7 linked regions of the Homo sapiens genome follow. The protein of the gene in region 5 interacts with the protein of the main gene of each other region in a biochemical or structural test. Each region holds a gene or a part of one and is shown on either strand. Other genes may lie near its edges.

Region 1 (3,500 bases), on a different chromosome or scaffold from region 5:
ATATTTAGTGTATACTACAGCAGAGATTGACTGTATCTATTATGAGTCTTATTATTTTCCTGCAGGAGAAACATTTTATCTCTAACCTTCAAATTGACTAACAATATATAGCTTGTCAACTTAAATTTAATATTAGGTGTCATCACTATAATCTAAGGTTTTCAAAGAAAAACTTATACAATACTGCTGTCTTGACATTTTCTGAAAAATATATTTTCTCTACTTACAAAAGTAATTTATTGTAAAAATCCCATATTTCTGCAGCAGGGGGAAAACCCACCTGTGATCACATCATCTTTAACTGCTTTCTAAATCCTCCAATCTAATGCCCCATTCTAGACCCTCTCCTATGGTAACTGCAAAGACATAGGACCAAGCTAAATTCTATCACCTCCACACAAACTTGCATCATTTACAGCTTGTCAGCTTATATAATACAAAGGAACTTTTGTAGAAACAAGACTAGAACTTGTAAATAATCCTAAATATGGATCAAAGTTTAGAAAACTACAAAATGCTACTTATGTGTAGAGCACTGGACCAAGTGCTAGGAATACAAAGAGGTATACACGATTCCTGACATCAAGGGGCTTATGTCTAAGTTTTTCAAGCACAGGGTAGAATATTGGGCTGAGTAACACTTGCCTTCATCATGCCATTGACTTCAGAAACTCCAGAATTTTCAAGCCAGAGGGAACAAAGTCGGAATACCCACATATCATGTTCTTCTCCACTTAATAAGCAGTTGATATAATTTTCAACTGCTTTACATAAGAAGCGTTTACGATCCTCTTTCAGTGCACGCAGGGCTAATTCATCCAACTCCAGCTCTCGCTGAACCTTTACTGTGTATCTTGCATAGAATAATTAAGGTAAAACACAAAAGCCATGAACTTTAACAGAACTACAAAATCACACATGATATACAACATTTAATGAAAAAAGTTGGGTTTTTATCCCAGGGAAAAAAGCAAACTTCTAAGGATTATAAAGGGAATAAACTTACTTTTGTCTTAACTGTGCAATTCACACACCTTCCTAAGCATCAAAGGACAAAGGGGACTCTCCCCAAGCTATTTAGCTAACTTACACCTCTGCTTACACTAAAATATACAGATTCAAGACAGGCTTAAATAAAGGGATTTAATTACATCAAAATAGGTAACTTTTGTAATTAATTTCAATATCTATCTCCTTTTCCACTATGATACCAACAAACAAACCAAAAAAGCAAAACAGAAAGCTAATATCTATATTCTCCACAATGAACTTAGAAGCAGAGCATGAATTATTCACAAAAGAACACGTCAATATCTTACATACTAATTTGTGATTAACTACAGTAGGACCAAGACAGACAGGGCACAGTGCCTCACACCTGTAATCCCAGCACTTTGGGCGGCCAAGGTGGGCAGATCGTTTGAGCCCATGAGTTTGAGACCAACCTGGGCAACATGGCAAAACCCCATCTCTACAAAAAATACAAAAATTAGCCAGGTATGGCGTGCACCTGTAGCCCCAGCTATTTCGGGGGCTCAGGGGGAGAATCAATTGAGTCCAGGAGGTCGAGGTTGCAGTGAGCTGGAGTACAGTGATCACGCCACTGTACTCCAGCCTGGGTGACAGAGTGAGACCTTGTCTCAAAAAAAAAAACAAAAAACAAAAACCGAAAAGAACCCAAAAGACCAAGATAATCTATATATAGTTAAGCCGACCTTTAGAGCTCAAAACTATATCAGATAAAAAGACCAAGTCACTCTTTCTATGCAAAAACACTCACTCAGTTAACTGGTGAACATAAAATTGTCACTTGTAGAAACCTAGTTACCTGTTTGTCTGAATTTTATGTTCCCTAAGGAGACCTACTTCCTCTTTGGCTCTTTTCAGGAGAGCTTGCTTGTTTTCAAATTCCGATGATTTCATGTAGTTTTCAATTCTTTGGTATTGAGTATCTGAAAACCGGGCTAATGAGAGAAATGCCTTCATTTTTCCATTTCTTAGCTCATCACTACTTTCTCCATCATAATTTCCAGCAACTTCTACTGCCTTCAAGAAAACACAACCAATTTAAATTATATTTACAAATACTAAATACATCTAAAGAATCACTCAAATTAAGGTAATACACTAAAATTTAACTTATATACATATAAAAGCTAGCTAAATTATATGAACTATTGCAAACTTGTCCAACCCACGGCCCATGGGCCGCATGTGGCCCAGGACGGCTTTGAATGTGGCCCAACACAAATTCGTACATTTTCTTAAAACATTATGAGATTTCTTTTGTGATTTTTTTTAAGCTCATTAGCTATCATTAATGTTAGTATATTTTATGTGTGGCCCAAGGCAATTCTTCTTGCAATGTGGCCCAGGGAAGCCAAAAGATTGGACAGCCCTGAACTATGGTATTTTCTTGACTTTTCAAAACAACTTTGACAGTGTAGAAATAACCCAGACAGCTAATACTTGTAAAGAACTCTGCAAAAACAGAGAACTTTATAAAATTTAAAGACAATCAGGCTGGGTGTGGTGGCTCAAGCCTGTAATGCCAGCACTTTGGGAGGCCGAGGCAGGTGGATCACTTGAGGTCAGGAGTTCGAGACCAGACTGGCCAATGTGGCGAAACCGTCTCTACTAAAAATAAAAAATATTAGCCGGGTGTGGTGGCACACTCCTGTAGTCCCAGCTACTTGGGAAGCTGAGGCAGGAGAATCGCTTGAACCCAGGAGGCAGAGGTTGCAGTGAGCCGAGATTGCGCCACTGCACTCCAGCTTGGGCGACAGAGAGAGACTTCATCTCAAAGAAAAGAAAAGAAAAGAAAGACAATCGCATCATGTGTTTCATGTTACACTTATTTAGTGAGGTAACTATTTCCAAAATTAGTGAATCTAAAGGAATAAGAGGGAGAAACAGGAAAGTCAAAGGGGCTAGTATATTGAAGCCTTTACTTGTGGGTGGCTGGGCTAATGAAGAGCAAGGGCTGACTTGCCTATTCTTAATCAGTTATTTTTGTAGATGCATAAATGAAGAAATGATCAGAAGCAACCTGCTGAAAGGGTAGCTGGTAGTGGAGGTAGGAAGGAGGAAGAAGAGATACTATACTTGGGCTTACTTTCAAAATTGGCTGCTTTGTTTTGTAACAATGTTTCACTCCACCCTAGAGACTATACAGAGCTACAACAGTAATAATATATAGAAAAATAAAACCATACTTTTATTTGCTTTGGAAATATATTGATCTTGATGAAAAGATGAAGCATATTCATGCTAAGTAACTATCTTAAGGGTTGCTCCAAAAATCTTACCTTTTCTAGATAGGTCTGCATGATGACCGCAGGATTTTCTAAGCACGTTTCTGCTAACCAGTTGCCACAAACCCTCAGACATTCTGTGTATGTAAGTTTTAGGCTGGGATTGTTCTGTATAAGAAAGGCAAAATCTTAAAATATAATGCATTACCATGACTGTACCCAACTGCCCTTCATGTACGGGGAAAA
Region 2 (3,500 bases), on a different chromosome or scaffold from region 5:
GAGTGCAATGGCACGATCTCAGCTCATGCAACCTCCACCTCCTGGGTTCAAGCGATTCTCCTGCCTCAGCCTCCTGAGTAGCTGGGATCACAGGTGCCTGCCACTATGTCCAGCTAAATTTTTTGTATTTTTAGCAGAGACAGGGTTTTGCCATGTTGGCCAGGCTGATCTCGAACTCCTGACCCCATGTGATTCACCCACCTTGGCCTCCCAGAGTGCTGGGATTACAGGTGTGAGCCACTGTGGCTGGCCTGCGAACCTGGTCTTAAAACAAGCAAGCAAACAAGCAAACAAACAAAACTCATGACAGTACAACATGTGAACCTGTGCCCAGGTCGGGGGGTGGTTTGGGTGGGGTATAGTTCAAAGGTTATTGGGATAATATCTAAAATGTGAATATAAACTGTGCATTAGATACTGAATCAGTATTAAGTTTCTTGATTTTGAAAACTGTACTGTGGTCATGTTAGAGAATACTCTTAAGGCAGGGTTTTTCAACCTCGGTATGACTAACATTTTGGGCTGAGAAAGTTTCTGTTTGGAGGGCTGTTCTGTATATCGTAGGATTTTTAGCAGCATCTCTGGCCTCTTGATGCAGGGAGTACCCCTACCCCTCACTGTGACAACCCTGCCACATGTCCCCAGGGAACAACAGGACCATGGTTTGAAGTAAAGACATACTGAAACAAGGTGAAGGGGTGTATCTACAATTTACTCTCAAATGACTCAGAGTGCGTGGGAGTGCCCACACACATGCACACAAAGAATGATAAAGCAAATGGGGCAAAAGATAAAAAATCGGTGAGCCTGAATCTGGGGTAAAGGGTATTTAGGAGTTCTATCTGGCGGTTCTACAAGAGTGTTCCAGAGACTCCTATGGGTTCCCTCTAGAGGATCTGAGAGGTCACAGTACATTTATTATACTACTATGACATTTTCATCCTTTTCAGTCACGAGTGAAAAGAAGATTTTTCCAGATGCAATATGATGAGTGATGATGTGTACATGAAAATGTGACACTTGGAATATCTGTGTAACTCAGTGAACCAGTATTTTCCAAATACGCTAAAAAATCATGCATGAGTATGAGTGCAAGGTAGACTAATGGATTTTAACGAAATAGTATCAAGAATTCACTGATATGATTTCAGATTCCACACTGCAATTAACCTTTAAGAAACCACCACTTGTTTAAACTGGGGGTAGGATCAAAGAATAGCCACAAGTGGCTGAAAAGACTACTAAAATTTCCCTCCTTTTTCCAGCTACATACCTGTGTGAAGAGTTTTCCTCTGGCCATACCACCCTGAACACGCCCGATCTTGTCTGATCTCGGAAGCTAAGCAGGGTTGGCCTGGTTAGTGCTTGGATGGGAGGAATAGATCTTGAATTTCATAAATAGCACTCAGACATCTATTTTTAGGCTTATTTGTAAATGTCTTGATAAAATGTCTGATTACTGTTACATACTAGGGAAAAATCTCACTTTTTTGTGTGTTATGCTTTTAAGCATAGATTTTGTTTGCTAAAATGTTATTTAGAATTTTGCATGTATTTTTCACTGGCTTGCGATTTTTCTTTTTATATAACATCTTTTTTAAAGGGTCTTTATTAATATTGCACTCAAGTTTTCTTCTGTTTTCTATGCTCTGAATTCAAGCAGTTAAAATCCATGGGAAAGAGTTTTCCTTGACATTTTTGAAGAACTATGCATGTAATATTATATTGATTATTAAATTGATTAAAGCCTGAAAAAAAAAAAAAAAAGAGTTTTCCTCATGAACTTAAACCAAAACAACATATTTGACAGACTGAATGCAGAACCAGATGAGAATCCAACTGTCTTCTATTAAGCCAGACATTAAAGAGACTTGCAAAAATGAAAACAATGCCACTCTTCTCACTAAAAGGTTGTTTTTCGTTTTGCTTTTTTTAAAGACAGGGTCTCACCCTGTTGCCCAGGCTGGAGTGCAGTGGCGTGATCACGGTACACCGCAGCCTCAATTTCCTGGGCTCAAGAAAATCTCCCATCTCAGCCTCTTGAGTGGCTGGAACTATAGGTGCACACCACCATGCCCAGCTGATTTTAAAATTTTTTGTACAGATGGCAGGGCACAGCAGCTCACACCTGTAATCCCAGCACTTTGGAAGGCCGAGGCAGGTGGACCACAAGGTCAGGAGGTTGAGCCCATCCTGGCTAACATGGTTAAAACCCTGTCTCTACTAAAAATACAAAAAAATTAGCCAGGCGTGGTGGCGGACGCCTGTAGTCCCAGCTACTCGGGAGGCTGAGGCAGGAGAATGGCGTGAACCTGGGAGGCGGACCTTGCAGTGAGCTGAGATCACACCACTGCACTCCAGCCTGGGTGACAGAGCACGACTCCGTCTCAAAAAATAAATAAATAAATAAATAAATTTCTTTTTTGTACAGAGTCTCACTATGTCACCAGGGCTGGTTCCAAACTCCTGGTGATCCTCCTGCATTGGCCTTCCAAAGTGTTGGGATTATAGGTGAGAGCCATCATGCCTGGCCTCACTAAAACGTTTTTATTGTAGAAAATAAACTTATTCTTAAGAAAAACATGTAATTTATCTTAACATGTAGTGGGTTTACTATTTAAAAATTAATTAATACATTTTAAAGTTTCATATTGTAGGCCGGGTGTGGTGGCTCATGCCTGTAACCCCAGCACTTTGGGAAGCCGAGGCGGGTGGATCACCTGAAGTCAGAAGTTCAAGAGCAGCCTGGCCAACATGGTGAAACCCCATCTGTACTAAAAAATACAAAAATTAGCCGGGCATGGTGGTACACACTTGTAGTCTCAGCTACACGGGAGGCGAGGCCGGAGAATCATTTGAACCCGGGAGGCAGAGGTCGCAGTGAGCCAAGATTGAGCCATTGCACTCAAGCCTGGGGGACAAGCGCCAGACTTCTCTCCAAAAATTAAAAAAAAAAAAGTTTCATATTGTAAATAACAATAGATATAACCTACGTAACTAAAAAAAGGTGTGTGGGTCCTTGACTTTTTTTTTTTTTTTGAGACAGAGTCTCACTCTGTCACCCAGGCTGGAGTACTGTGGCAAGATCTCGGCTCACTGCAACCTCCACCTCCCAGGTTCAAGCGATTCTCCTGCCTCAGCCTCCAAGTAGCTGGGATTACAGGTGTGTGCCACCATGCCCAGTGCATTTTTTGTATTTTTAGTAGAGACAGGGTTTCTCCATGTTGGCCAGGCTGGTCTCGAACTCCTGGGCTCAACTGATCCACCCGCCTCGGCCTCCCAAAGTGCTAGGATTATAAGTGTGAGCCACCATGCCCAGCTGGTCCTTGATAATTTTTAACAAATGTAAAGGGATCTTGGCTGGGCGCAGTGGGTCATGCCTGCAATCCTAGCAATTTGGGAGGCTGAGGTGGGTGGATCAGTTGAGCCCAGGAGTTTGAGACCAGCCTGGCCAACATGGCAAAACCCTGTCCCTACAAAAACATACAAAAATTAGCCGG
Region 3 (3,500 bases), on a different chromosome or scaffold from region 5:
TATATTGCAGTCTTTAGGCCATAGATTTTACGTTCTCCATTTCCTCTAACAGATGTCTGGTTTTTGTTTTGTATTTTTCCCATTGCCCTCAGGTTTCAAGTTCAGGCCCAGACAAGAAGCAGGACACTGGTAAGGTGACTCCATTTGGTGAAATGCGACTGCGCTTGTGTCAAGGGAGAGAAGAGCAACCCAGTCAAGCTCCTGCCCAGATGCCAACTCCCCTAGGAAAAGGAGAGGAAGGGAGACGAAGTGCACCTGCGGACAGAAAGCTCTGAACGACCCTGCAGTAAGCCTGGGATCCTCTAATTACCCTGGAACAAATGCCATGGCTCCGATTCTTGTATGGAGTAGTCTGATTATATTTCACCATAAGAATCTGACATAGAGTATGGGTTTGGGTTTTTCCTCAGGTATTTGATAGCTTGTTAGGAGCAAAGTCTGATGGGAAAACAAGTTTATGCCTGCACAGAAAAACAGTTCCCAGTTGAGATAAAATGATTAAACTTTGCTTTAGCAGTTTATCAGATTGAAACATCCCCGTACCTTTCACCTTCCACCCCACCCCAAACAGCTATGTTCTTTTGCTGCTGTGTTGCTTTAATTACAGAACAAAAGCTGTAGCCTCAGCACAAACATCATGCTCATCTCTTCAAGTAACTGAACCTGAAGAGGGAGAATTCTTTCTGCCTCTCTCAACAGAATATTGGGTGGGAAGATATGACTTTTGCTCTCAAACATACTGACTTATATCCTAATTCTCTTAAATTTTCTTACATTATTCCTTTACCCTAAGTGAGGCCAAACCAGTCTTAGCGGCCAGAAGGCCCCTGTGAATCCACATTATTATACAAAAAGCACAGGATGGGATGTTAAATTTTAAGTTAAATAAAAATATATTGAGGGCAGGCGCGGTGGCTCACGCCTGTAATCCCAGTGTTTTGGGAGGCCAAGGTGGGCAGATCACGAGGTCAAGGGATCAAGACCATCCTGGCCAACACGGTGAAGCCCTGACTCTACTAAAAATACAAAAATTAGCTAGGCATGGTGGCATGCGCCTGTAGTCCCAGCTACTCAGGAGGGTGAGGCAGGAGAATCGCTTGAACCTAGGAGGCGAAGGTTGCAGTGAGCCGACATCGCGCGACTGCACTCCAGCCTGGGTGACAGAGCAAGACTCTGTCTCAAAAAATAAATAAAATAAAATAAAATAAAAATATACTGAAAGTTGAAATAAAATGAAGAAAAGGAGATGAGTGATACTGAAGAAATCGCCTACCCTGAGCTTCATTTTACAGACAAGGACAATAATAGGACTTGTCCTTACTATCTCACAGTTATTTTGATAATCCAAAGAGAAAATGTATTTGAAAGCACTTTGGAAACAGGGAGACATGATAGAGATATTAATTGTAACTACAATCAGAGATGGGCTTAGATAGCCCAAAACACCTAGCAGCTCCATTTTGATAAATGGAGGAAAACAGCCTCTTAGTAGAATATACTGGGTTACACAGTCTGATTGAATCTGCTATTGTGTTTAGAAGTCAACAGTCAAATCAGATCTGTTAGGAGCCTGCCGTATCGTTTCCCTCTATAAACAGGTCGCTCATGTCAACACCTATGAGTGGGTGTCTGTGCATGGAGAACATGCCGGTGCTTTGCAACTGCCTGCCATCCTCGGTAAAAGCAGCCACAGAAAGACTCACCTAGTTCTTTCCTGTATTCCTTTATGTCTTATTTTTCAACAGAAAGTGAAAAGAAGGAATAAAGATAACATTTTTGAGCACAGAGAAATCTAGTTTGGGTCTCTCTTGAGCACTGCAGAATGGAATATATTCTTAACCAAAGGAAGGTATAATGCGGGGTAAAAGTGCTAATCCTGAGTTTTGCTCCCCTCCCCCAGCGTCTGTGCCAAGGGTTAGAGCTGATGACCACAGGGAAAGGATGGGCCTGGGTTAGAGAGGGCAATGGGCTTCTAGGCTTACAGTCAGCTGAAGGGCACTGCTGACTGCTGGTAACTGCAATTTATTTTAAGAAAAAATTCAAAAAAATAAGCACAAAAACACCCAAGTTTGCCGCCTGCTGCTGTTTCTATACTCAGCCAGGACTGTGGTACATGAGTCACTTGGTCCAAAAAGGTTGGAAGAGGCTGTTAGGGGAGGCCATGTCATTATAAGGTTGCAACATAGCGTCCTGATATAACCCCAGTTCCTGCTCCAGATGTAAAAGGTATGATGCACTACTGCAATTCCAATTCAGTTAGTGGGCAGAGAAATCTGTCTTATTAATACGGTCTCAGACGCTAAGCTTTCCCGGGATGTGATGAGGTATTATGGGGCATGCATCAAGGCAGTGTGTATTAAGATTGCAGAAAACAAAAACAAAAACAAAAACAAAAACTATTCTTGGGTTGGCTGTGGGCACTGCTTGTTCAACCAGGGCATGGGTTTGAGATAAGGACCTGGATTAGAATGTTGCAATCCAAGAAGCTTCAGTGGTACAATCTTGCTGAAGATTAATATCTGAACCCCCAATATGTAGAAGAAAAAGAAATTACACTCATCTAAGAGTACCTGCTGTATGCTGAGCAGTGTACTAGGCACATTCCCACATACGTCCTACAGTAGGACACCCACAGATAAAGGCATTGACGTCCCACCATTGGGTGAGCCCCCTACCTACTCTCACAGCAACCCCACATAACCTCCACCTCTCTCTGTTTCCACATATTTACCTTTCTGCAGGATCTCTAGATGTTCCCATAAGATGTCCCCAACAAAGTCTGGGGCCAGCTCGAGAAAGCAGTCTTTACCCAGGGCGCAGAGGGCTGCTCCATTCATACAGAACTTCTGGAAGTCTACACCTTTCAGGCTGAATTCATTCACAGCCCACATCACCCAGTCCCGAACATGGGTTTCTGTCCACTGCCGGGGGTCTGAGGAAAGAGATCAGATGAAGATCCAGCAGGTCGGGCTTTTAACTCCTATCCAAGCCTCAGAGAGGACACTGAAGGAGCTGAATTTAGCTGAGAATGCTATCTTTATTCATCGAATGAGGAAGCATCAGCCTAGCCTGCACATCATTGAGTGCCTTCCATAACCCTCCCCTCCATATTCAACATCTCCGCCTTCTCTATTTCACCAGCTAGGAGGTCACTACTGCCAGCCAAAAAGTACCACATGAGTATTCTCTGTCCTTGCAGGCAAAGATTTCCATGAATCTCCTCTCTCACTGCCTTATTCCCATTGGACTTTTTTAAAGCCCTGAACAGAACAAATGGCTTCTTTAATAGCAATAATAACAAGAGATTGCTCATGCCTCTCCCTGCTCTTAACTATAATATACTTGAGACTATTATTCTCGATTATTTTTTATCTTAGCCAATTATAGTGGTAACAATTGTAGCAATTAGTAGTAGTCATTCATTCAAATGGCACTTGGTAATAACATTATTAGGTGCCTGTATTATACCAGATACTCTGCAAAGTCTGTACTTATCATAA
Region 4 (3,500 bases), on a different chromosome or scaffold from region 5:
ATTAAAAAGTGTCCTTATCTTTTAGAGACACACACTGAAATATTTACCCAGCGAATTTGCTTTGAAATACTCAAAAGGGTAATGGAAGAGAGTACAGATGAAGGCAAGACAGACTATGAGTTGATAATTATTGAAGCAGGGGGATTTCATTATACTATTCTAGTTTTATATTCTGTAAAATTTTCCATCAAAAAAGTTATCCACACAGAAAACAAATGAATAAAATTTGAGGCAAAACCATCACAACCTACTTTAGATCTTGCTGACTATTTTTCTTCTTCCGAGGGGGTTTCTTCTTCTTCGGTTTATTTGCGTTGGTATTATTTTGCTTATTGTTTACCCCAAAATGGCCTGCAGATATGTCACTCTGCAATAAGTTGACCAACAATGGGCTCGTTAGCGTGACATCCTTATTGACTGGGAAGCCTGGATTTTGACCACAGGACATCTGATTTCCATTGGGAGCTCCACTGAAAGGTGCATTGAAAGACATCCCATGGCCTGAGAAGTGGTTTCCCGAGGCACTGTTTCCCTGCATGGCCTGCACATGAGGGGGGACCATGTTGGTTTGTTGAATGCTAACATCAGGCATCATCTGAGATAAACTGACATCGTTATTTGCTGTAGTAGCAGGATCACCATGCTGCTGGGCCATGTGTGGGCTGGGCCCTGGTGGCCGCAGGACCTGTCCCTGAATGCCCATAACCTGAGATGGACTGTTGTTCACAGGCCCTTGCTGGGGCAGCATCTGTCCTGACATCTGTCCCGTAAACTGCACCATATTTCCTTGCATGTTTGGAGTTGGTCCCCTCATTATCTGGGCTGGTCCCGGCATGACATTGGACTGGTTCTGAGTGTTAAACTGCTGCTTATTCCCCTGCATTTGATTGGTCATAATCTGCTCTATCATTGGGTTCTGTTGGAGCAAAACCTGCCCCTGAGGCCCCATCATCTGGTTATGTGGCGCCATCATTTGTGGGCCCTGCTGGGAAAGCATCTGCTTGGGTGGGGTCATCCTTTGGGGCGAGGGCCCAAGATTTTGGCTCGGGGGGTTCACCATCATCTGGCCCTGTGGCATAAGCTGGGCCCTTGAAAGGATCATAGGGTTCTGAGGGTTCAAGGTTCCTTGTTGCTGGACCATCTGGCCCTGGGAGGGCACGATTTGCTGGTGCATGCCCATCAGCTGAGATGGTGGGCCCTGCTGGGGCTGGCCTTGCATGTTGCTGAGGTTCACTTGAGGAACCCCAGAAGTACCAGCCTGCTGATTGTTCATGTTGCCATGAATTCCCATGAGGCTGGGCTGCATCATATTTGGCGGCCCGTGGGACACCTGCATCTGGTTTTGAGGAGGACCAGCTCCTTGACCACCTTAAAAAAAAAAAAAGTCACAGTTTCAGAAATAAATATTTTTATCTTATTGGTATTAAGATACTCAAGTTACATTACTCAGAAAGACATCCATCACCCTTATATCCACTGACCAACATAAATATGCTGTTGACATACTTCCTGTGAGTTTTCTAAACTACAAAGATGTGGCTGTGGGATAACTGCTTACATTCCCAATGACCATATAATAGAGAAGGAGAAACAGTTTCTACATTCCCATATGGTATCTTAAAGATTTAACGTTTCAAAGATCAAGAAAGTTTACTTTCTTTCAGATTAAATAATGAGAAAGGCAGCATCTCACTGTTTTAAAATGACTTGTAGTGGCCAGGCTCGGGTGGTTCATGCCTGTAATCCCAGCACTTTGGGAGGCTGAGGCAGGCGGATTGCTTGAGCCTGGGAGGTGGAGGTTGAAGTGAGCCAAGATCATGCCATTGCACTCCAGCCTGGTGACAGAGTGAAACCCCGTCTCAAAAAATTAAATTAAATTAAATTCAAAAAGCACTATGGGCTACTGAAATAACTCTGCTATAAGAATGTGAAGTGTCGGCCGGGCGCGGTGGCTCACGCCTGTAATCCCAGCACTTTGGGAGGCCGAGGCGGGTGGATCACGAGGTCAGGAGATCGAGACCATCCTGGCTAACAAGGTGAAACCCCGTCTCTACTAAAAATACAAAAAATTAGCCGGGCGCGGTGGCAGGCGCCTGTAGTCCCAGCTACTCGGGAGGCTGAGGCAGGAGAATGGCGTGAACCCGGGAAGCGGAGCTTGCAGTGAGCCGAGATTGCGCCACTGCAGTCCGCAGTCCAGCCTGGGCGACAGAGCAAGACTCCGTCTCAAAAAAAAAAAAAAAAAAAAGAATGTGAAGTGTCCTCTTAGGAAAACCTCAACAATCATGAGAAGACATTTAAAAATGCTTCTTGGAAAACTGTAATAATAATGACTCTCAAAAGCTATGTGTGTGATATGTGGATGCTGCACTTCAAAGAAAATAACACCAAGGACAGGTGTCCTCTGCCCTGATGTGGTAAAAAGCAGTTAATCTTGATCTGGAAGCTGAGCCTCTGGTGGGAGCCAACTGACTAGATGACCCATCTGGAAGCTGCAAATAGAGGAATAATAAAACCTCAGTGACCCTCTCCTGCGCAGTCCCTGGTGAATCATGTGGCACATGTTTTAGTCTTCTCAGCTATTTCTAACTTAGACAAAAGTTGCTACCCGCCTTGCTGTAGTGCTTATTTATTTACTGGGTCTTTGGGATTTTCCTATAGCTACTTGCATTATCTCCCCGTTTAACTGAATAACTTTGTAGTTAATTTTGTCCCTTTTATTTTTCACTTTTTTTGTTGTTTTGTTTTTGAGACAGAATCTGGCTCTGGTGCAACCTCGGCTCATTGCAACCTCCACCTCCTGGGTTCAAGTGATTTTCATGCCTCAGCCTCCCCAGTAGCTGAAACTAGAAGCGCACAACAACACACCCGGCTAATTTTTGTATTTTCAGTAGAGACAGGGTTTCAGCATGTTGGTCAGGCTGGTCTCGAACTGCTGACCTCAGGTGATCCACCCGCCTTGGCCTCCCAAAGTGCTGGGATTACAGGCTGAGCCACCGCACTTGGCCTTATTTTTCACTTTTAAATGGGGACTAGAAAATCCCCTACAATGAAGTTATGAAGCCAGTCCATGCTCCAACTATGAAGGCAGGGGGCAAACTACCTTGTTCACACTATCCAGACTTCTCCTGAACTCTAAGGAAGATTTTCTAAACCAGCCTTATAAACTCAAAGTGGAACTCCATGACCATTGTATATGCTTGTATACAATAAATATACTGTGTATATTCATTCAACTGACAATTATTCATTAAGTACCTGATACATAGAAGGCACTTTGGTGCTGAGGTAACATCAATAAACAAGACAGACCAAATCCCTGCATCCTTGGAGCCTACAGTCTAACTGGCAAGAGACACAACTAACAAACAGACAAGTATTTTTTCAGGAAGCAGTAAAAGCTAACAAGAGAAAGTAGGGTGAGAGAAGAGAAAGTAAGAGATAAGAGTAGAGCTACTTTAGATAGGATAAATGGGGAAACCAAAACATGTACACGTGGGCCG
Region 5 (3,500 bases):
CTCTCAAGACTAAAGTATTTTGAATTCAGGATTTTTTTTTTTTTTTTTTTTGAGACAGGGTCTTGCTCTGTAAGTACAGTGGCCCAACCATGGCTCACTGCAACCTGGATCTCCTGGGCTCAAGTGATCCTCCCACCTCAACCTCCTCAGTAGGCGGAACCACAGGTACACATGCCACCACACCCAGCTAAATTTTTTTTGGAGTGACCGGTCTCACGATGTTGCCCAGGCTGGTCTTGAATTCCTTGAGCTCAAACTCTTATTTTAAATTATCCAGGGATAATTTTAAAATGGATAACTTAAAATGGATATTTTAAATGGATAATTTAAAATAAGAGTGCCTTAAAGCTTCCTGATCCTACGGCAAGAAGCAAACGTCTGGGGGGAACACTGGAAACTGAGGTCATCTCTACAGGAACCCAAGTGGATATTTTAAATGGATAATTTAAAATAAGAGTGACTTAAAGCCTCCATTAATCAAGGCAATGATCCTCCTGTATTAGCCTCCCAAAGTGCTGGGATTGTAGGTGTGAGCCACTGCCCCTGGCCAGGAAAATTTTAAATTGTATGATTACACTATGATCCTCTACAGTAAAAAAAAAAATACATTTCAGGGCTATCAAAATATATAAAAGTAACATATGTAAAATACACAGAATAGTGCATGACACTAAAATAGTATTTATTAAGTTCATAAATTTTACTGCATTTTACTTTGACTTTAAATGTACATTTTTCTAATGCCTAATAAATACCTAATCTTACTATCTTCTTTATTTTTAAGGCCAGAAACTGAACTACATACTCAGTTTGACTTTTAGATAAGAGTTTTGGCCAGGCATGATAGCTCAACCCTGTAATCCCAGCACTTTGGGAGGCCAAGGTAGGCAGACTGCTTGAGGTCAGGAGTTCAAGACCAGCCTGGTCATCATGGAGAAACCCCGTCTCTACTAAAAATACAAAAAAATCAGCGGGGCGTGGTGGCGGAGACTATAGTTCCAGCTGCTCAAAAGGCTGAGGCATGAGAACTGCTTGAGCCTGGGAGGTGGAGGGTTCAGTGAGCTGAGAACCTACCACTGTACTCCAGCCTGCGCGACAGAGCAAGACTCCGTCTCAAAAAAAAAAAAAAGTTTTATATTAATCTTTAACCCATGATTCTGATGCTATCTGTAAGTTTATTTGATATATAATGTTTAGTTCATCAATTTAGGTAACTCAAATTCATCAGCTGAGAGAAAAATATTAAGCCCAATGTTAACAAGGAAAGCAGCAGTATTTTTTCCCCCACTCACAGCAGACATGAGAGAGGTCCTTCACACAATTCCCAAGAGTATACTAAAATTTTGATGAAATTTCTCAAAGTTGATGGTACACGTAAAAAGTATCACAAACTTCTCCAGACTGTATTATGAGTATGTGAAGAGTGAAATCAGTTCAATATCTCAAAAATATTCAATTAAAATATCAGTAGTCCAATTTTTAAATTAAATATTTTTTAAGTGAGTCTTGATTATTCCTAGGCAATGTAAAGAAAGCAAGTAGTTTTATAGTTTAAAATTATAATAGAATAACAAATACATAAATACAAAAAATTTACAGAGTAATAATTATGAATATAAACAACAGTAGCACAAGTTGTGCTAATAACATCACCTTAGATTTGGTAACAGAATTATGTGGTCTAAGGTCCATAGCATTATTTTTGCCCAAGGTAGGTGATAAAATACCTTTCATTGCTTTTTTTCTCCTGAGAAACTTATTTTTTGTAAAAGCAAAAAGAAAATAGAAATAGAAATTCAGTTCTCCAAGAATTACAGTAATTCATAGTCATCACCATTATGAAAAATACATCAATAAAAATTTCTCATTATGAAGAGGGCACAAATAAAATACACTACCGGCTTGGTGTGGTGGCTCACGCCTGTAACCCCAGCGCTTTGTGAAGCTGAGATGGGAGGATTACTTGAGGCCAAGAATTCAAGACCAACCTGGGTAACATAGTGAGACTCCATCTCTACAAAAAATTAAAAAATTAGCTGGGTATAGTAGCACATGCCTGTAGTCCCAGCTACTCGGGAGGCTGAGGTGGGAGGATTGCTGAAGCCCAGGTGTTTGAGGCAGCAGTGAACTACGACTGCACCACCACACTCCAGCCTGGGTGATAGAGACCCTGTCTCTAAAAATGAAATAAAGTAAGACTATGGATTATGTACTATGCCCATTAAAACAATGATAAGCTCACCTCTTTCTTCCGTTTTCAAAGTATGTCAAAATTCAAGTAAGTAAAGTGTATTACTACAAAAAATATCCCTCGACCCAACATCCATATATCAACAATCATTAAAACCTACCTTACAAATGATAAAATATTTCACTGATTCTCAACTTTGTGGCCAAAAATTGATAGTGTAGTTATAATTGTATAATTAGCAGAGACTTCAAAACAACTTTAGAACTGTGGTATTTTAATCATAATCTCAATCCCACTATGGGGAAGGAGAAATGAAAGGTTTCCCTAGAATGTTTATAATAGGATTGGTGGAGTAGAAGAAAAGAATAGTTGGGGTGGGGAGCAGCCTGTAATCCCAGCACTTTGTGATACTGAGGTGGGAGGATCGCTTGAGCCTGGGAGTTTGAGACCAGCCTGGGCAACGGCAAGACCCCATCTCTACAAAAATTTAAAAACTAGCTGAGTGTGGTGGCATGTGAGTGTGGTCCCAGCTATTTGGGAGGCTTAGGTGGGAAGATCTCTCGAGCCCCAGAGGTGGAAGCCGCAGTGAGACTTAGTCGCATCACTGCACTCCAACCTGCATGACAGAGTAAGACTTTGTCTCAAAAATACAAAGATAATTGGATTTTATGAAAATCACAGTATCATAATTTTATCATCTTAAAATAAGGATATGCTATACTGAAGGAATTTGATACAGAAAATGTCTGAGAAGGGGTACATATGGAACAAAAAAATATGAGACATTCTCTCAAATGAATTTACGAAAATTCTAAGGTGGCATGTTCCTCCACAAATTATAAATTCTTAGGGAAAAATAACTTTGTTGCCAAAGCTACCAAGTAGATGGTTGCTGTACTGCTTTCAAGCTACAGCACAAGCATGCCTGGAGGGCTAGGCTAGATTATTTCTGAATGAACTTCAATAATAATTCCCACAACACAAACTGAGTACTCATTAAGTTCTTGACACTGTATTAAGTATTGTATATATATCACATGAATGCTCACAGCAAGACTATGAGTTAAATTATTCTCCTTAAAGAGAAGGAAACTGAGGCAGAGAGGTTATATAATTTACTCAAGATAACACAGTAAGTGGTAGACCCCTGATAATCTGGCTTCTAATAACTATCCTAAAATATTGATTACACACTTAACTATGTGCCAGGGACAAAACTCAGTCAATTTGGCTATCATATACTCATATACACTTTCTTTATTCCAAGTGTTTCCTACATGGAAATGAATTTGTCATTATAAATCTTAAT
Region 6 (2,254 bases), on a different chromosome or scaffold from region 5:
AGGAGGACACCAGAGGATGAAGCGGGGGGTGGGGTCTGGGAGTCTGAAATAATAGAGATTTTCAGGAGAGCAGCTCAAAGGTACAGCCCAGGGCCGCCCACTTCTGCTTCCTGCTGGGCTCTCTGCCACCTTCCATATGACATTGGCCTGGTCGGGGCAAAGAAGTGACCGACAGGCCCCTGGGACATCTTTCACTCATTATTCATTCACGCACAGGTATTTGCTCACAGTGGGCAATGGGAAGGGGAGGCCAAACCACACACTAAATGCTGCCCACAGAGGGCCTGCAGCCCAGGGGGGATGATGGAGAACAGCTGCCTGGAGGGAGGCCTAAGGTAGAGCCTTGAAGGCCAAGGAGAATGGAGAGGAGAATGGAGGGCCTTCCACGCACGGGCACTAAAAGAAGGCCAAGCCTACTTGGGGAGAGGCAATATCGGGACCTGTGCACTGGGCTGCACTGGGCAAAAAAGGCTATGTGTGTCATGCTGTTGGGAGAAAATGGGTCCTGCGGTTAAGTACATCTGGGAAGTTCTGGATTAAATGAGGAACGGATCTCTTTACTGCAGGACTTGTCAAGACCTTTAACCTGTGAATGCAGAATGAACCTTACGGTGGATCCCAGGACTGGTGTCCCACACTGACATAAGGACTAGCTAGGGGAGGCAGTGGGAGCTGATGAGATTAGAGAGAACACAAGGGGTTTTGAATGCCAGGCCAAGAAGGAAGGCTAGACTTTTTCCTTGGGGCAGTGAGAATTCTCAGGAGGCTTAGAGGGATGTAGACTCAGGGAACCTGGGGCAGTTTTAGTAACCAGCGAGGCCAGGGCTGTGGCAAGACTAGCCAGTCCCAGTCAAGGACTCCCCAGCTCCTTGACAGCAGGGCCATTCTGTGGGAGAGAAAACAGAGACCATGGACACAGTCAGCAGTAAGGGTCTCAGACTGGCGTGAAGAGGGAAGGCTGGGCAACCCTTGAATCCAAGCTGGGTACAGTGCTCAAGCCTACTTGGGTTCCAATCTGACTCCACCACTTCCTAGCTGTGGGTGTCTGACCCAATGTCTCTGTGTCCTCAGGGTATTTGTTTTTTTTGTTTTTTTGAGATGGAGTCTCACTCTGTCACCCAGGCTGGAGTGCAGTGGTGTGATCTCAGCTCACTGCAACCTCCACCTCCCAGGTTCAAGCAATTCTGCCTCAGCCTCCCGAGTAGTTTGGGATTACAGGCATGCACCACCAAGCCCAGCTAATTTTTGTATTTTTGGTAGAGATGGGGTTTCACCATGTTGGCCAGGCTGGTCTTGAACTCCTGACCTCAAGTGATCCGCCCACCTCAGCCTCCCAAGGTGCTGGGATTACAGGCGTGAGCTACTGCGACCGGCCTGTGGTTTATTTTTTAGAGCAGTTTTAGGTTGGTAGAAAGTATAGAGGTTCCCACCTACTTCCTCCCCTTCTCTCTCCTCAGTTTTCTTGATGAGTAACATCTTGCATTAGTGTGGCACAATTGTTACAATTTATGAACCAATACTGATACATTATTATTAACTGAAGTCCATAGTTTACTTGAGGGTTCACTCTGTGTTATCCAGTCCTACAGATGGTAACAAATGCACAATAGGTATCCACCATTACAGTATTATACAGAAGAGTTTCAAGGCCTTAAAAATGCTGTCTGGGCCTGCAGGGTGGCTCATGCCTATAATCCCAGCACTTTGGGAGGCCAAAGTGGGAGGATCACTTGAGTCCAGAAGTTCAAGATCAGCCTGGGCAACATAGAGAAACCCCGCCTATACAAAAAAGAAAAAAAATGTTTTAATTAGCCACCTGCAGTCCTGGTGCACCTGGGTGGCACAGACCTGTAGTCCCAGCTACTTAGGAGGCTGAGGTGGGAGGATGGCTTGAGCCCAGGAGGCTGAGGTTGCAGTAAGATGTAATTGTGCCACTGAACTCCAGCCCGGGTGACAGAGCCAGACCCTGTCTCAAACAAACAAACAAAAAAAAGCTTTCTGAGCCTCAGTTTTAACACCTGTAAGATGAGTGTGAAACTCCATCTGAAGCCCCCCAGTCTCCTCCTATAGGTTTTTGATTTAGGCCTCCCAACAAATCAAGTATGACTGAAATCCACTAAATGTCTCGAACTATGGTCTGATATCCATCAGAATCACTAGGCTTGGGTCAGGGCGAGAGGTCCTCATTCAAATGCACATTCTAAGGTCTCAACTGCAGACCTGCTGAGTCACAAGCCCTGGGGTGGGGCCCAGG
Region 7 (3,080 bases), on a different chromosome or scaffold from region 5:
TTGTATTTTTTGTAGTAGAGATGGGGTTTCACCATATTGGCCAGGCTCGTCTCAAACTCCTGACCATGTGATCTGCCCGCCTCAGACTCCCAAAGTGCTGGGATTACAGGCATGAGCCACCAAGCCCGGCCAGCACCACCTACAATCGTTTTTTTGAGACAAAATCTCACTGTTGCCCAGGCTGTAGTGCAGTGGCACGATCCCGGCTCACTGCAACCTCCGCCTCCTGGGTTCAAGCGATTCTCTGCCTCAGCCTCCTGAGTAGCTGGGATTCTAGGCGCCTGCCACCACACCCGGCTAATTTTTTTGTATTTTAATAGAGATGGGGTTTCACCTTCTTGGCCAGGCTGGTCTCGAACTCCCGACTTCATGATCCACCCGCCTTGGCCTCCCAAAGTGCTGGGATTACAGGCGTGAGCCACCGCACCGGGCCCGCATCTGCAATCCTATAATGACGAGCCGTTGAGCTAACTGTAAGTCATTAGCCAATCTGAACCATCTTTGAATCCAAGTAGTTTTACCATCTTTTATTATAAACACCATCACATTTCAAGTTTCCTCTTTTTGATCACAAATATAGGACTTTTTCTTCTCCTCTTAAGTATACAGCATGAGACACAGCGTTGGGGCTTTCCAGGTTTCTTACAGAAATTTCCTTACGACAAACTTAGGGTTAGCATCCACAGACCATGCTCTCGGTCACATCCTTCGACATCTGGATTGCCCAAGACGGTTGCACAGGATGCAGACTCCAAAGAGGATGAGGTTGGTACATAACGTTTTGAATTCCAGGATAACCTGAAACAGAGGCCCCTCCACTGCCCACATTAAAAGGCTGCACAACCAGGAGGGCGCCACTTTCTGAGTGTGGGCTTAGAGCTGCTGCTCTCGGGCTCTAGCCCCACTTCTTGTTTGAACACATGGCTCAAGGTTTCCCTACGGGTGGAAAAGATGAAGAGGACACTGGAGGTTAAGAACCCAGCAGGCCGAGCAGTGGCAGCAATCTCCACCGGAGGCCCGGCCTGTGCTTCCCCTCCTGGGATGGGGTGAATGGGGGCTGGTCAGGGGTGCCAGATGGTGGTCTTATTTTTACTTGAATTATTCTGCATTTTATAACTCAAGGTTCAAAGCTCTGTGCTAAAACTAGATCGGACCTTTCCAACTTCTTAGAAAGGTTCCTCGAATTCAGATTCCCAAACCAAGTATTCAGCTATTTAAAACCTATCTGTGAATGTAAGGGCCCAAACGGAAGCTATTTGGGGCGTGATTTCTAAAATTACCATCACCCCCACCTAGACCAGCCTTTGTTGGGGGACTAGGGATAAAGTGGGTTCTCTGGGTGCTGGGGGTGGTAGACTTAGGGGATGAACTTCAGCTCCCCTGCCCATGGTCCTCCTCTCAGTTTTACGGTTTTTGTGAACTTGTCTCACCCACTCAGTAAGGGAGCCTGGAACTGGACTCCAAGGGAGGCAGGACCATGTGGCTAAGTGCAAGTATCCCCCGAAGTGGGGGACCTTTCTCACTGTAACAGGGACCGGAGCTGGTGCTCCAAGGTGTCTGTCCCTCAGCATTTCCTCAAACGCCACACGGGACATGCTGCGCGGCAGCGGCAGGATTTGGGGGGAAGTCAGAAAGCACCTCGCGAGCCTGGAGCACTCTCTGCCTCAGATTCTGGGAGTCGTGTACGGGGGGGGGGAGCCGCCTGAACACGGGAAGAAGCGCCGCCTCTGGGGGTGGCAGCTACGACGGACAGGGAGGATGGAGGAGTGGGCCAAATGCAGTTTCAGACCAACTGACGACCCTAACTGTGTGAGCGACAATCACCTGTGAGCCTCGAATGTGTGGGGCCAACGCTGAGCCGCCCACCTCAGTCGCCCACCTCAGTCTCCGGGAAGAAAAGCCTCCGGGCGGCCGCTAAGCCTGGGCCACAGTTCCCAGCCACCACCCACGCCGCCACAACCACAACCGCAGCCCCAGCCTCTCCGCTATGAGCGAACAACCAGAACCATGTCTTACAAAGAACAGACTCAAAAAATATATATAAATAAATAAAAACCTTAAACATTCTTACAGGGATCTTAAAGAACAGAATACATGTTAAAAACCTCAGTAATTTATATCAATTTTAAGCGGTACTTTATATACAATGGGGAAAAAACACATGCATAGTCCAAATACAATGTTGAAAACAGCATTTTCATAACAAAAAACCCCGAACACTAAGTGTTAATACCATGTACATGAATTCAAGAAGGACCACCCTTTTTGTCTGTTGCACACAGTTTATTTAACAATATGATATAAGAAATGAGTTGGTATTTTACCATTCTATACAGTGATTGAATCTTCTCGAGTTTCGTATTTATAGGAATTAGAGCGCTTGCATGATTTACACTAGAATTGCTTTTCCTCATTTCAAGTTTCACATAGAAGAAAGAAAAGAAGGCTTCTTCTCTAGTAACATTAGCATGGTCTAAGAGTGATCATCCCTATTTTTTGTCTAAAACCAGTTTTATCAGAGAAACAAAGCAACAATTTCTACATCTGCAAGACAAGTTTGGCTTCAGCCATTATGTATAGATAGATGTGTGTGGGTGTGTACGTGTGTGCACGCCGGAGTCAATTCCTATCATCCAGGGTAATACTGGGAGACGCCCACAGAGTTCACTATAGAAAAAAATCTTCCCGAAACATCACAAAGTTATCGGGATACATTATAAGCTTGCATTATTTCAGGAATCAGTTCTGAATATTATTTTTCTTCTTACTTTTAAACATAAATGTTTAAAGTCTTGAAAATACAAATAAAAAATATGAATATAATGAACTTGTTTTTCCCGTTAAAAAAAGGCATGAGTCACCAGCAATGACGACAAAAAGAATCCAAACAAAACCCCCCTCCCCCCAAACAAAAACAAAACGGAAAAAAAAGAACCCCCCCCACCCCCCCGCCAAAAAAAAACCAAAGAGAGAGACCAGATATTTAAATCAACTGGTTTTTAACAAAAAAATATATTCTTTGTATTGTTTCTTTAAACATCAATCCACCCTTCCATGGCTCGGAAGTCGCAGTTCCATCT

What was found.
Region 1: of the proteins of ATF2 (region 5) and ATM, one has a biochemical effect on the other in vitro, tested with the Homo sapiens proteins (one study listed by BioGRID).
Region 2: of the proteins of ATF2 (region 5) and MAPK1, one has a biochemical effect on the other in vitro, tested with the Homo sapiens proteins (3 studies listed by BioGRID).
Region 3: the proteins of ATF2 (region 5) and ETS1 form a complex in vitro, tested with the Homo sapiens proteins (one study listed by BioGRID).
Region 4: the proteins of ATF2 (region 5) and NCOA6 form a complex in vitro, tested with the Homo sapiens proteins (one study listed by BioGRID).
Region 6: of the proteins of ATF2 (region 5) and MAPK13, one has a biochemical effect on the other in vitro, tested with the Homo sapiens proteins (2 studies listed by BioGRID and IntAct).
Region 7: the proteins of ATF2 (region 5) and CREBBP form a complex in vitro, tested with the Homo sapiens proteins (2 studies listed by BioGRID).

What each region holds. Positions count from the first base shown.
Region 1 is NC_000011.10:108,327,567-108,331,066, reverse strand, and holds part of ATM (serine-protein kinase ATM), read right to left. Parts: intron 3,423-3,500; coding exon 3,309-3,422; intron 2,047-3,308; coding exon 1,829-2,046; intron 854-1,828; coding exon 646-853; intron 1-645.
Region 2 is NC_000022.11:21,791,146-21,794,645, forward strand, and holds part of MAPK1 (mitogen-activated protein kinase 1), read right to left. Parts: intron 1-3,500. UniProt on the Homo sapiens protein: Serine/threonine kinase which acts as an essential component of the MAP kinase signal transduction pathway. MAPK1/ERK2 and MAPK3/ERK1 are the 2 MAPKs which play an important role in the MAPK/ERK cascade.
Region 3 is NC_000011.10:128,486,559-128,490,058, forward strand, and holds part of ETS1 (protein C-ets-1), read right to left. Parts: intron 2,933-3,500; coding exon 2,732-2,932; intron 1-2,731. UniProt on the Homo sapiens protein: Transcription factor. Directly controls the expression of cytokine and chemokine genes in a wide variety of different cellular contexts. May control the differentiation, survival and proliferation of lymphoid cells.
Region 4 is NC_000020.11:34,749,152-34,752,651, forward strand, and holds part of NCOA6 (nuclear receptor coactivator 6), read right to left. Parts: intron 1,369-3,500; coding exon 252-1,368; intron 246-251; exon of another isoform or gene 1-245. UniProt on the Homo sapiens protein: Nuclear receptor coactivator that directly binds nuclear receptors and stimulates the transcriptional activities in a hormone-dependent fashion. Coactivates expression in an agonist- and AF2-dependent manner.
Region 5 is NC_000002.12:175,158,204-175,161,703, forward strand, and holds part of ATF2 (cyclic AMP-dependent transcription factor ATF-2), read right to left. Parts: intron 1-3,500. UniProt on the Homo sapiens protein: Transcriptional activator which regulates the transcription of various genes, including those involved in anti-apoptosis, cell growth, and DNA damage response.
Region 6 is NC_000006.12:36,140,513-36,142,766, reverse strand, and holds part of MAPK13 (mitogen-activated protein kinase 13), read right to left. Parts: 3' UTR 1-2,254. UniProt on the Homo sapiens protein: Serine/threonine kinase which acts as an essential component of the MAP kinase signal transduction pathway.
Region 7 is NC_000016.10:3,724,554-3,727,633, forward strand, and holds the end of CREBBP (CREB-binding protein), read right to left. Parts: 3' UTR 501-3,080; downstream 1-500. UniProt on the Homo sapiens protein: Acetylates histones, giving a specific tag for transcriptional activation. Mediates acetylation of histone H3 at 'Lys-18' and 'Lys-27' (H3K18ac and H3K27ac, respectively).